2 separate regions of the Homo sapiens genome follow, and region 2 is linked to region 1. The links come from fine-mapping of genetic effects on gene expression. Tissue or cell type: cerebellum. Region 1 holds a variant in brackets; the other region holds the start of a gene. All regions are shown on one strand. Distances are between the middles of the regions. Region 1 overlaps ATP2C2 (ATPase secretory pathway Ca2+ transporting 2). Region 2 holds the start of WFDC1 (WAP four-disulfide core domain 1).

Region 1 (5,325 bases):
CCTTTTTGTTTTTTTAAAGCCATTTACAAGCTACAGGCAGGAACTCCGTCCACCACTTAGAAACCGTCCTCCTGACTCTCTCCTGGGTCCCACCTGTGTCGGTCACAGCCCCCTCCACCCCCACTCCCCCCACACCCATAGCCTCCCATCCACTGGCCTCCCATCCTCTATCCTCCTCCCCTCTTTGCTGGCTCCTCCCATAAACATCTCAGCATGGGTTTCCACTTTAAACATAACCTCTTTTCTGGGCCTTGCATTGGAAATACACCTGCTCCTTCCTCATTTGCCAACATCGAGCTTTTAGAAGGAGTGTCTATACTTGCTGTCTCTATCTTTTCATTTCCTATCCACTTCTCAACCGACTTCAGCCAGATCTCCAGGTCATTTCGGTGTTTCAAGGCCACCGGGACATAGCCCTGGACCCAATACATTGTAAGTGAGGGCTTGCTCTGCCTCAGTCCAGTCTCGTGACAGTCAGGAAACAGAGTCCCTGGGTTGGTGACTGAGCTCGTGGACGCTGCCACTCCTCGCCCTGCATTTGGGAGACTCCTACCTGGGATGCTTACCTGGGCACCCCCCTCATCTCCTTAAGAATGCATAGGGGCCCGGGGGCCTAATCTGCCCCGGGTTGATTCCAATCACACAGCTCCATAATCTAAATGGCACTTAATGTATCCTTTGTTGAAAACAGGATTGTCCACTCTGTTTCCAGAAACTACAGACTCTGGTACGGCCCCCATCCCTCTACCCAACCCCAAACACACACTCACTTCTTCTCTCCAAGTGGGCCCGTGCCCGCTGCTGATCAGGACATTGCCATGACCCAGAATGGCCCACCTTGAAGCTGAGGCACTCAAAAACTGGAAACAAACTCAGGGTAAATCGTGAGGAAGGTTGATCAGCCATGATGCACCTACGCTGTCAGGCAGCCAAACACATCTCCTGAGTTGCACCAAGCCTCCATTCTAGGCCCACCCACCAGTTGACAGGAAATACTGGAGATAATAGACACGTTGAATGACACCATGGGGACATGATCACTAGACTGTGGGAACTGTAGGACACACAGCCCGGCCTCCCCAGCATGTAAACTACAACAAAAACACAAGAATGGGCCGGGCGCAGTGGCTCACGCCCGTAATCCCAGCACTTTGAGAGGCCAAGGCAGGCAGATCACCTGAAGTCAGCAGTTCGAGACCAGCCTTGTCAACATGGTGAAAGCCCATCTCTACTAAAAATATAAGAATTAGCCGGGCGTGGTGGCGGGCACCTGTAATCCCAGCTACTCAGGAGGCTAAGGTAGGAGAATCACTTGAACTCAGGAGGCAGAGGTTGCAGTGAGCTGAGATCACGCCACTGCACTCCAGCCTGGGCAACAAGAGCAGAATTCCATCTCAAAACGAAAAACACAAGGATGAAACGTGCAGACGCAGAGAACCATCAGAGACCCCAGCCAAGTGCAGGCTGGGACCTCACTTGAGTCCTGATTTGAATAAACCAGCGTGAAGCAGTGTTTAGGAGCCCAAGGGAACCTCAATATTGGCCAATATTTGATTTTCTCTAATTGTTAATATTTTATGATATGATAATGGTAATTGTGATATTTTAAAGAGTTCTTCTCTTTAGCCATAGATATGCAGAAATATTTATAGATGAAATGCTAGGAAGCCTGAGATTTGTGTCAAAACAATCTGGGGTAGACAGGAGTCAAGATTGGCTCCCCTCATTGGCACTGGGTAACAGAGTCATGTGGGCTCATTCCATTATTCTGTCTATTTCTGCATATGATTGGAATTCTCCAATACAAAATACAAAATTAAATAGTATAAAATTAAAGAGAAAAGAGGTGTTATATGATTTGACCTAAGGAGACGTCACTGATATGTCATCAAATTAAAAAAAAAACCTTTTGCAGAACAATCGTCGTAATATAATCCTAGTTTTGTTTTAAAAAAAAAAAGAGGAAGGAAGGAAAGATGAAGGGAGGGGAGGGAACGGGAGTCACATAAAAGAACTTGGAAACAGTTTCAATTCAACTTTGTGTGTGAGTTTCCCATGGCTGCTTGGTCTCCACGGCTGTAACAAACAACCAACACAAACTCGGTGGCTTAAAACAACCGAAATTTGTTCTCTCAGTTCTGGAAGCTAAAACTCTGAAACCAAGATGCTGGCAGGGCCACGTTCCCATTGAACCCTGCAGGCAAGATCTTTTCTTCCTCTCCCAGTTTCTGGCGGTGGCTGACAATCTTCCGCGTTCTTGGCATGTG[T/C]ACGTATCACAGCAGTCTCTGCCTCTGCCAGCACATGGCTATATTCCCAAGCGTCTCTGTCTGCTTTTCTTATAAAGACCCCAGTCATTGGGTTAGGGCCCACACAACTCCAGTGTGACCTCATTTTAATTTGACTGCATGGATAAAGACCCTATTTGCAAATAAGGTTGCATTCACAGGTACCAGGGGTTAGGGCTTCAACATGTTTTTGGGAGGACACGCCTTGACCATAACAGCATGTATGTGCGTCCACAGAAGATGCGAGAGATGGCAGTAGCTGCCCCGGGGCTGTGGGGCTGAAGGGTCCGAGGCTGTAGCTTCTTGTTACTTTGTAGACATCAGTCCACTGTGAATCGCAAGTGTTCCTTTTGTAATGAGAGTGGCGCATCCTGGTAAAGGTCAGAGAGTGTCCCTAATTCTCCCTCTCCATCACAGGTGATTTAGGCAGAACCAAACCTTCCCTTCTTCTTCTTCTTTTTTTTTTTTTTTTTTTTTGAGTCTGAGTCTCACTCTGTCACCCAGGCTGGAGTGCAGCAGTGTGATCTCGGCTCACTGCAACCTCTGCCCCCAGGGCTCAAGCCATTCTCCTGCCTCACCCACTCGAGTAGCTGGGATTACAGGTGCCCACCACCACGCCGGGCTAATTTTTGTATTTTTAGTAGAGACGGGGTTTGAACATGTTGGCCGGGCTGGTCTCAAACTCCTGACCTCAGGTGATCCGCCCACCTCGGCCTCCCAAAGTACTGGGATTACAGGCGTGAGCCACCGCGCCCGGCCCCCTTTTCTTTTGTGTTTCCCTTTTTAAAGCTTTTTATAAGATGAAATCCACATAACAAAAAATTAACTGTTTTAGAGCATGCAGTTCAGTGCATCTAGTACCTTTGCAATGTTGTGCAGGCACCACGTGGAGCTCATCCCCAAACACTTTCACCGCCCGCCAGAGGAAAATCCTGTGCCCAGGAAGCAGGCACTCCCCACGCCCTTTCCAGCCTCCGGAACGACTCATCTGCTTCCTGTCTCTATGGACGTCACGGTCCCGCCTACTTCACATCCATCTTCTGTGTCTGTGCCTCCTTTGGAACCCCCAAGATGTTATTTGCCTGCTGCAGATAGACCCACGCGGGCGACGGTGAGCGCAGCCTCCCTAGCCCCAAGGAAACGGCCTAGAAGAGAAAGGTTTCCAAGAGAAGCTGCACCCAACAAGCGCAGCTCAGGACTGACGTTTAACCTACCAGAGGCTCCCGAGGGGACCACGAAGTGCACGTATGGCCCTTGCTGAAAGGTGAGTTGGAGCTGTGAGCTCACTCCAGAGCAAGGGAGCCAGCGGCACCTCCGGGCGAACAGCCTCCCTCAGTCCAGCCCCGCTGTGGCGCCCTCCCGTCCAGCCCCGGGATTCGGTTCATTGCGAACTTGGACTGCGTTAGACCCTAATGATCTTCCCTGTTAGAGGGCTTATGCAGACATGCATTGCTTCAACATATTTGACCAAAGCCTAGCCCGTGCCTCAGTTTCCTCCCCTGGAATGTGGGGGGCTAAGGGTATAACAGCCGGGGTCCACAGGGCTGCCGTGGGATAAAGGAAAGTGAGACTGGACATGGTGGCTCAGGCCTGTAATCCCAGCACTTTGGGAGACTGAGGTGGGTGGATCATTAGAGGTCAGGAGTTCGAAAGCAGCCTGGCCAACATGGTGAAACCCTGTCTCTACTAAAAATACAAAAAAGTTAGCCAAACGTGATAGCACATGCCTGTAGTCCCAGCTACTCGGGAGGCTGAGGCAGGAGAACTGCTTGGACCCAGGAGGCAGAGGTTGAAGTGAGCGGAGATAGCGCCACCGTACTCCAGCCTGGGTGACAGAGCTAAACTCCATCTCAAAAAAAAAAAAAAAAAAGGAAACAGTGAGAGTGAAGTTCCCAGCACAGAGCCCAGCACCAGGGAGCACTGAGGGCCTTAGGGTGACAGCGGTGACCAGAGGTGGGGACAGCAGGAGTCCTCGTCCTTAGAGGACACCAAGGGGCCCGAAGAGGGCTGCCGCGTTTAAGAAACGAAAATACAGATGCCAGTTACCTTTGCACTCCAGATAAACACCAGATGATTTTCCAGTATACACGAGTACCGCATGGGACAAGCGTGCACTTATTGTTTGAAATTCAACCATGACTGTGTGTCATGTGTAAATCTGACGACACCAGAGGCATGAACAAGCCGAGAGATGCTCAAAACTCGCGTGGTGGTCACGCCCTCCTGGGGTGCAGCTAACAACGAAGGAGATGGGCGGGCCCCAGTGCAGATCGCGGGGAATCTAGAAAGGCACCCAGGAATTGTGAGAAAGCAGTTGAGAGAGGTACTGGAATGAGGGGCCTTCTGGGCTGAGGGAAGAACAGGCATGAAGGTGCTGAGAAGAACAAGAAAACGGCTCATGTGGGAATCCCAAATGCCTTAGGTTGTGGAAAGCACTTGGCCCCTGGGGGTTTCAGAGAAAGAGAAGAGGCAGAGAAAGAACCCTGGGCCTAGTGAATCCTCCAGCCCCAATCCTTCAAGAATTTCACAATATAGGCCGGGCGCGGTGGCTCATGCCTGTAATCCCAGCACTTTGGGTGGATCACGAGGTCAAGAGATTGAGACCATCCTGGGTAACATGGTGAAACCCCATCTCTACTAAAAATACAAAAATTAGCCGAGCATGGTGGCGCCCACCTGTAGCCCCAGCTACTCAGGAGGCTGAGGCAGGAGAATCGCTTGAACCCAGGAGGCGGAGGTAGCAGTGAGCCAAGATTGCACCACTGCACTCTAGCCTGGCAACAGAGCGAGACTCCATCTCAAAAAACAAAAACAGAAATAAAACAAAACAAAAAAAGAATTTCACAATATAGGGCACGTAATTATTGGGATCGATGCCTTTGGAGAGAATCAATGCAAGAGTCAGAATGACACAAGAACAAAACAATCGAGTGGGCTTCCTGACAAGGGTGACATTGGAGACACACACCCAAATAAGCCACACTCAGGCAGATGCTTCCTTCTTTCCAAGGCTTCTCTATCCTTCTCTCCCAAGGCACAG
Region 2 (5,329 bases), 96 kb after region 1:
GCCGCCACACCCAGCTAATTTTGTATTTTTAGTAGAGATGGGGTTTCACCATGTTGGTCAGGCTGGTCTTGAACTCCTGACCTCAGGTGATCCACCCGCCTCGGCCTCCCAAAGTGCTGGGATTACAGGCATGAGCCACCGTGCCTGGCTGGCACAGTTGTTCTGCATAAACCTCACCTATGTCTAGGCGCTGAGGAAGGAGGCCAATATCTGTTGATAACCAGGGAAAGTTTCAATTCAGCGAGGAGCCAATTCAAAGCACTTGCATCCTGACCAGTGGTGGCTACAAGTGAATCAGCTCCTGCAGCCCACCCAGGCCTGTGTTTTAGAGACTCCCCCAAATCCCCCGCGCATATCAACCCTGACCCTCCTATGTGGATGTCACAGTGCTGGCTCCTATGACATCTTGGGACATGGTGGAGATAAAATCAGATGACATATTGGCAATCTCTCTATGGTTGTAGAACCAAAGTGCTACTAACTACAGTTGAGGGTTAAATCATCCTGTTGCACCAGAGAAGAGCATGGAGGAGTCAATAAAATCTGAGAAGAGTCTCTCACCCCTCCTCAATGCCTCCCCTCTGGCCAGGTCTGGTCTCCCAAGCAGCTCTTAGATGCACCACTTCTGCCTGTGAGCCTCGGCTCATGCTGAGCCTTCTTCCAGGAATTTCCTTCCTCCTCCTAATTCCTAATCCTTCCCCAAGATCCAGTCAAGGTCTCCACCTCCTCCAGGAAGCCTTAGGTGACTACACCATCTCACATGAGCTTTCCCTTCTCCAAGCGCCTCATCATGTCACTCTACTACTCTTTCCACTTCTCGAAGTCCTCCTGTCTCCCGCCACGAGCATGTGCCGAACATGGAGAATATGAGCCCTGGAGGCCCAGATTTGTCTCAATACAGTTTCAGGCACCCCACTATGCCTGGGGTCATTAATCATTCTCCCTTCCCTCTTCTCCAGCTGGCAAACTCCTATTTATCCTTTAAAGCCACAGGTCCACTGTCCCCAACCCTAAAAACCCTGTCTGACTCTCCTGGGGAAGAGCTGCACACGCATCCCGTGCTACCACTGCAGCCGCTCATAATTCACCCACAAGAATGTACCAGGCGTCAACTTAATGGCAGGCACCAGGGGCACACATTAGTGAAACAGAACCCTGCCCTACCCCAAGGAACCTACATGCTACCCTGTTAGGCAACACCAAACAAAGTCACAATTATTTGATTGAAAGCTGCCAAGATGCACTGCCAGCTTGCTATGTTGCAAAGACGTTCTACATACTGAGACATTCAATCCTCACACAGGTGCTGTGGGTGCCAGCATTACCTTCTTGAGCCCTCTGTGTGCTGATATCGTCCTGGCTCACTCCGTCCCTGCGGATCTGTGATCTCTGGGGGGTGGGAGGAACCAAAAATGATAGCCTCCTCCACCCCATTCTCTCTCCTAGTTCCCTTCCTGCTTTATTGCTTCCTCAGCACTTGCAATCTGCACATACTAATAAATGAGATCTCTCTCATTTATTCTTTGCTGCCCCCAGCCCCCCATTGAGTTCCCCAGGCAGAGATGTGAGGCCTGTATCCCCACAGCCTAGGACAGTACCTGGTAAACAGTGGCGACCCAGACATAGTTGTGTGAAGAAATGCATCCCTCTGTCTTTTGCAGATGAGATTGCTGGGGTTCAGAGACGTCAAGCAGCTTGCCTGAGAGAAGCCACGCAGCTAATGAGCAGCAGAGCCCGATTCACACCCAGACATCTGGCCCCAGGGCATGTGTTTCTTGCCACTCACTGCCTCATGCCTTCTCTTTGTACTGCCATCGTTTGTCACCCAACTGCCTCTGCACCTCGGCCACGCCACCCTTGAGGATGGGGGCTGGTACCTCCTTTATCTTGTATCCACAGGACCCCACAGAGTGCCTTCCCCAGAGCGGTTTCTGCTAAATTCTGTTTAACAGAGTGTATTCATTCTGTTTGCTGAATGAATAAACAACCACATGAATGCATAAGTGTATTTCACAAACATTTGGTACTGATCAGGGAGACGGAATGCTCCGTTTAAATCCTGGGGTTCCGAAATGAGATGCTGTCTTTCAGGAGCAAGCATACTTTTGTAACAAGGCAAAAGTAAGGCACGATTCTTTGGCACATTTGTGATGTGTCTTTTGCCTCTTGATTCACAGATAAGGGTCCTTTTTTGGGGGTGAGCCCCATCTGCCCACCACACAACTCAGACACACACGGATAGGAAGACGCCTGCCTTGCCACGTTTTGGGGGAGCACTTACAGGAGAAGGCAGTGTCTAGGGATCGCCTCTCCTCAAGGCTGACTCCCACCCACACAGGCTGCCCCAGCCTCCCCATCCCAGGCACTTACACGGGATTTCTCGGCCAGCCTCGCAGGCAATGCCCGTTTCCAGATATTCTTGGCAGAGCCGGCGTGGAGGAGAAGTAGCAAGAGGCACAGAGCCCGGATGATCTGCCTCCTGCAGCTGCCCGGCCCCACGCCGGTTAAAGGCATTTCCTCCCTGGGCAGCGACCTTCCAGACGCACACAGAAGAGGGGCCCCCCTCGCTGCGTGGGCCTGTGAGTGGGGACAGGAGCGTGCACAGTCTGCTGGACTTTCTTAGTTCCACCCAGCAGGGTCCCTCGGATCATGTGTCCGCGTCCAGCACATGCCCCTTCCTCGATGGTGGCTGGCCTGCCCGGTTATTTTTAGCTTGCCCTATAACATCTGGCCCCAGACGCTCCAACCAGGGCGTCTGCAGCCCAGGCAGCTCAGTGGGCGGTGGCAGCAGGAGGAGGGGGCACCGGCTTGCTTGGAGACGTGGCCGGGAGTGGCCTGTCACTCTCCACTCTCCATAATGAGCACTTCCTTGCAGGCTGGGGCGGTCTCCTCCCAAGGAGGTGTGCTTGACACAGGGCTCGGGGCTGGACATGCAGGGGAGTGCAGCCGGATGGGTGGGGGCTCGGCTGCTACCTTGTTCACATTTCGAGCTGGGCTGACAAACTATCTGCCTATAAAAGCTTCTTTGAAAGAGGCTGCTGGACTGGCACTGGCCAAGGGTGCAGCCATGAAGAGACGACTTCCACCCTTGCACCCGCCGGGGTCCTCCTGCCTGATGTGGGCATGTGGGTAGTTCCTCATAGCGTGTGTTTCCTGTGAGATTTAAAAGAAATTGAGCACATAAAGCATTTCACACACATAAGTGTGCTGTCACTGTCAGCCGGTGTATCTGCACATGTGCATTTATGTGTATGCGTGTGTGCACGTGGGTGTGCATGTGCACGTGTGTGTTTTACAGGAATGTAGCACAGCGGGCTCAACATTTCACAAACTTCATATTCCCTTGTCTGTTCTCAGCACTTCCAAGACAGATACTGGTTTTTTGTTTTGTTTTGTTTTTCGAGACGGGTCTTGCTCTGTCACCCACGCTGGAGTGCAGTGGTGTGATCACAGATCACTACAACCTCTGCCTCCCGGGTTCAAGCGATTCTCCTGTCTCGGCCTTCCAAGTAGCTGGGATAACAGGCATGTGCCACCATGCCTGGCTAATTTTTGTATTTTTAGTGGAGACTGGGTTTCACCATGCTGGCCAGGCTGGTCTCAAACTCCTGACCTTAAGTGATCTGCCCGCCTCAGCCTCCCAAAGTGCTGGTATTACAGGTGTGTGAGCCACCACACCCGGCCCCAAAACAGACACTGTTTTGATGCCCGCTTTACAGATGAGGAAACAGAGGGGGCTGCCTGAGGTCATGCAACAGCAGCAGAGAGGAGGCTGGAACCCAGGTAGGTCAGACCCTGTGGCACCCCCCTAGGCGAAGCAGAAGGGACCCAAGCACTAGGCTTGACGCACCTGCCTGATCCCAGTTCAGCCTCTGCGAGATGCTGGAAAGCCTCTTGCTCATGGTCCTCAGTTCTCTCATCTGTGAAATGGGCATGTGAAAGTCTCTGCCTCTTGAGATCGATGTGGGGCTACAGGAGAGGGTGCCAGCTGTGCCCAGCACTTGCACAGAGTGAGTGCTCCAGAAAGATTGGTTCCTCCCTCCCTGGGGACCCTCACCCCCCACCTCCTGGCCAGCACAGCCTTCAGAATGCCCTGGGCAGGTATCATCAACCCCTCTTGGCCTTTTAGTGAATGACAATAGTGGCAAACACATATAGTCTGTGTAGGTCGGGTACGGTGGCTCACACTTGTAATCCTAGCACTTAGGGAGGCAGAGGATGCCTTGAGCCCAGGAGTTCAAGACCAGTCTGGGCAACATAGTGAGACCTCATCTCTACAAAAAATACAAAATAAAAAAAGTAGCCCGGCGTGCTGATGCACACCTGTAGTCCCAGCTAATTGGGAGACTGAGATGGGAGGATCACCTAAGCGTGGGAGGTTGAGGCTGCAGTGAGCTGTGATGGCGCCACTGTACTCCAGCCTGGGTCACAGAGCAAGACCCTGTATCAAAAAAAAAAAACCTTAAAAGCCATACAGTCTGTGTGTTCGGCAATGTTTGAAGCACTTCCTGCATTTTAATGCTTTTAGGTCTCATATTAGCCTTATAAGCAGGTGCTGTCTAGGATCCCATGCACAGAGAGGTTAAGACACTTGCCCAGTGAGCAATGCAAAATTTAAGTTCACCATCAGAGTCCTGTAAACCCAGGAGCCCAAGCGTGAGAGTCTTTTTACATTTTAGACCCTAGATGCCTCCTTTGCCTCCCGCTAGGCCCAGCCCTGATCATTACCTTGCCCTAGATTCTAGAATATTCCTTCATTTCTTCATCCAGAAACTACTGGCTGAGCCCTTATGGGGGCATGGTCCAGCGTGCTCCACTCCCTCTTCTTTCAGCTTTATGGGACGCAGTCTCAATGCCCCTCCCTGCAGGGCAAGGCTGCTTATTTAGAAGCCAGGAGCCACCCACGGACATGATGGAGCTGCTACCCCTACTTACCAGGACGACCTGGAACAGGTCCTGCCCCATCTCTCTGCCTCTGTTTTCTCATCTGTAAAACAGGGGTATGGAGTCAGAACTTACTCGCAGGTTTGCCATGAGGCCCAGCTGCACTTAGGCGAGGATCTAGGCTCAGCACATGCTTGCTGTTAGGAGATGAGCGTTCTGAGGCACCGCCTCCTGGGCCTCCTCCACCCGCACCCTGTTCTCCAGGCAGAGCGGAACCTTGGCCCAGGTTCCATTTGAGAAACTTCCTGCTGCTTGGAACCTGGGGCCCTGCGCTCTCCTAAGGCAGCTAACGCCTCCCATGTGGTTCTTGCTCATCCTCCATCTCCACCTTCCCCTTAAAATGTAGGCGTTTCCCATTGATGTTACAGTCTTGGCCCATTTCCTG

What was found. PIP is the estimated chance that this variant, and not a neighbour inherited with it, causes the effect.
Region 2: WFDC1 starts here. The variant in region 1 is fine-mapped to the expression of WFDC1 in cerebellum (GTEx, PIP 0.99).

What each region holds. Positions count from the first base shown.
Region 1 is chr16:84,388,551-84,393,875 of GRCh38, reverse strand. All of the region lies in intron 1 of ATP2C2 (ATPase secretory pathway Ca2+ transporting 2), which reads right to left. Among named protein-coding and RNA genes, the nearest start is that of ATP2C2, 23 kb to the right of the region's middle. The variant T/C (reference allele first, on the strand shown) is at 2,268.
Region 2 is chr16:84,292,157-84,297,485 of GRCh38, reverse strand. WFDC1 (WAP four-disulfide core domain 1) reads right to left here and starts at 2,608. Exons shown (of 7, transcript NM_021197.4): 1 at 2,371-2,608. The coding sequence starts at 2,514. It overlaps LOC124903734, which reads right to left. Exons shown (of 6, transcript XM_047435022.1): 4 at 4,936-4,987; 5 at 3,851-3,969; 6 at 2,648-3,153. The coding sequence ends at 2,648.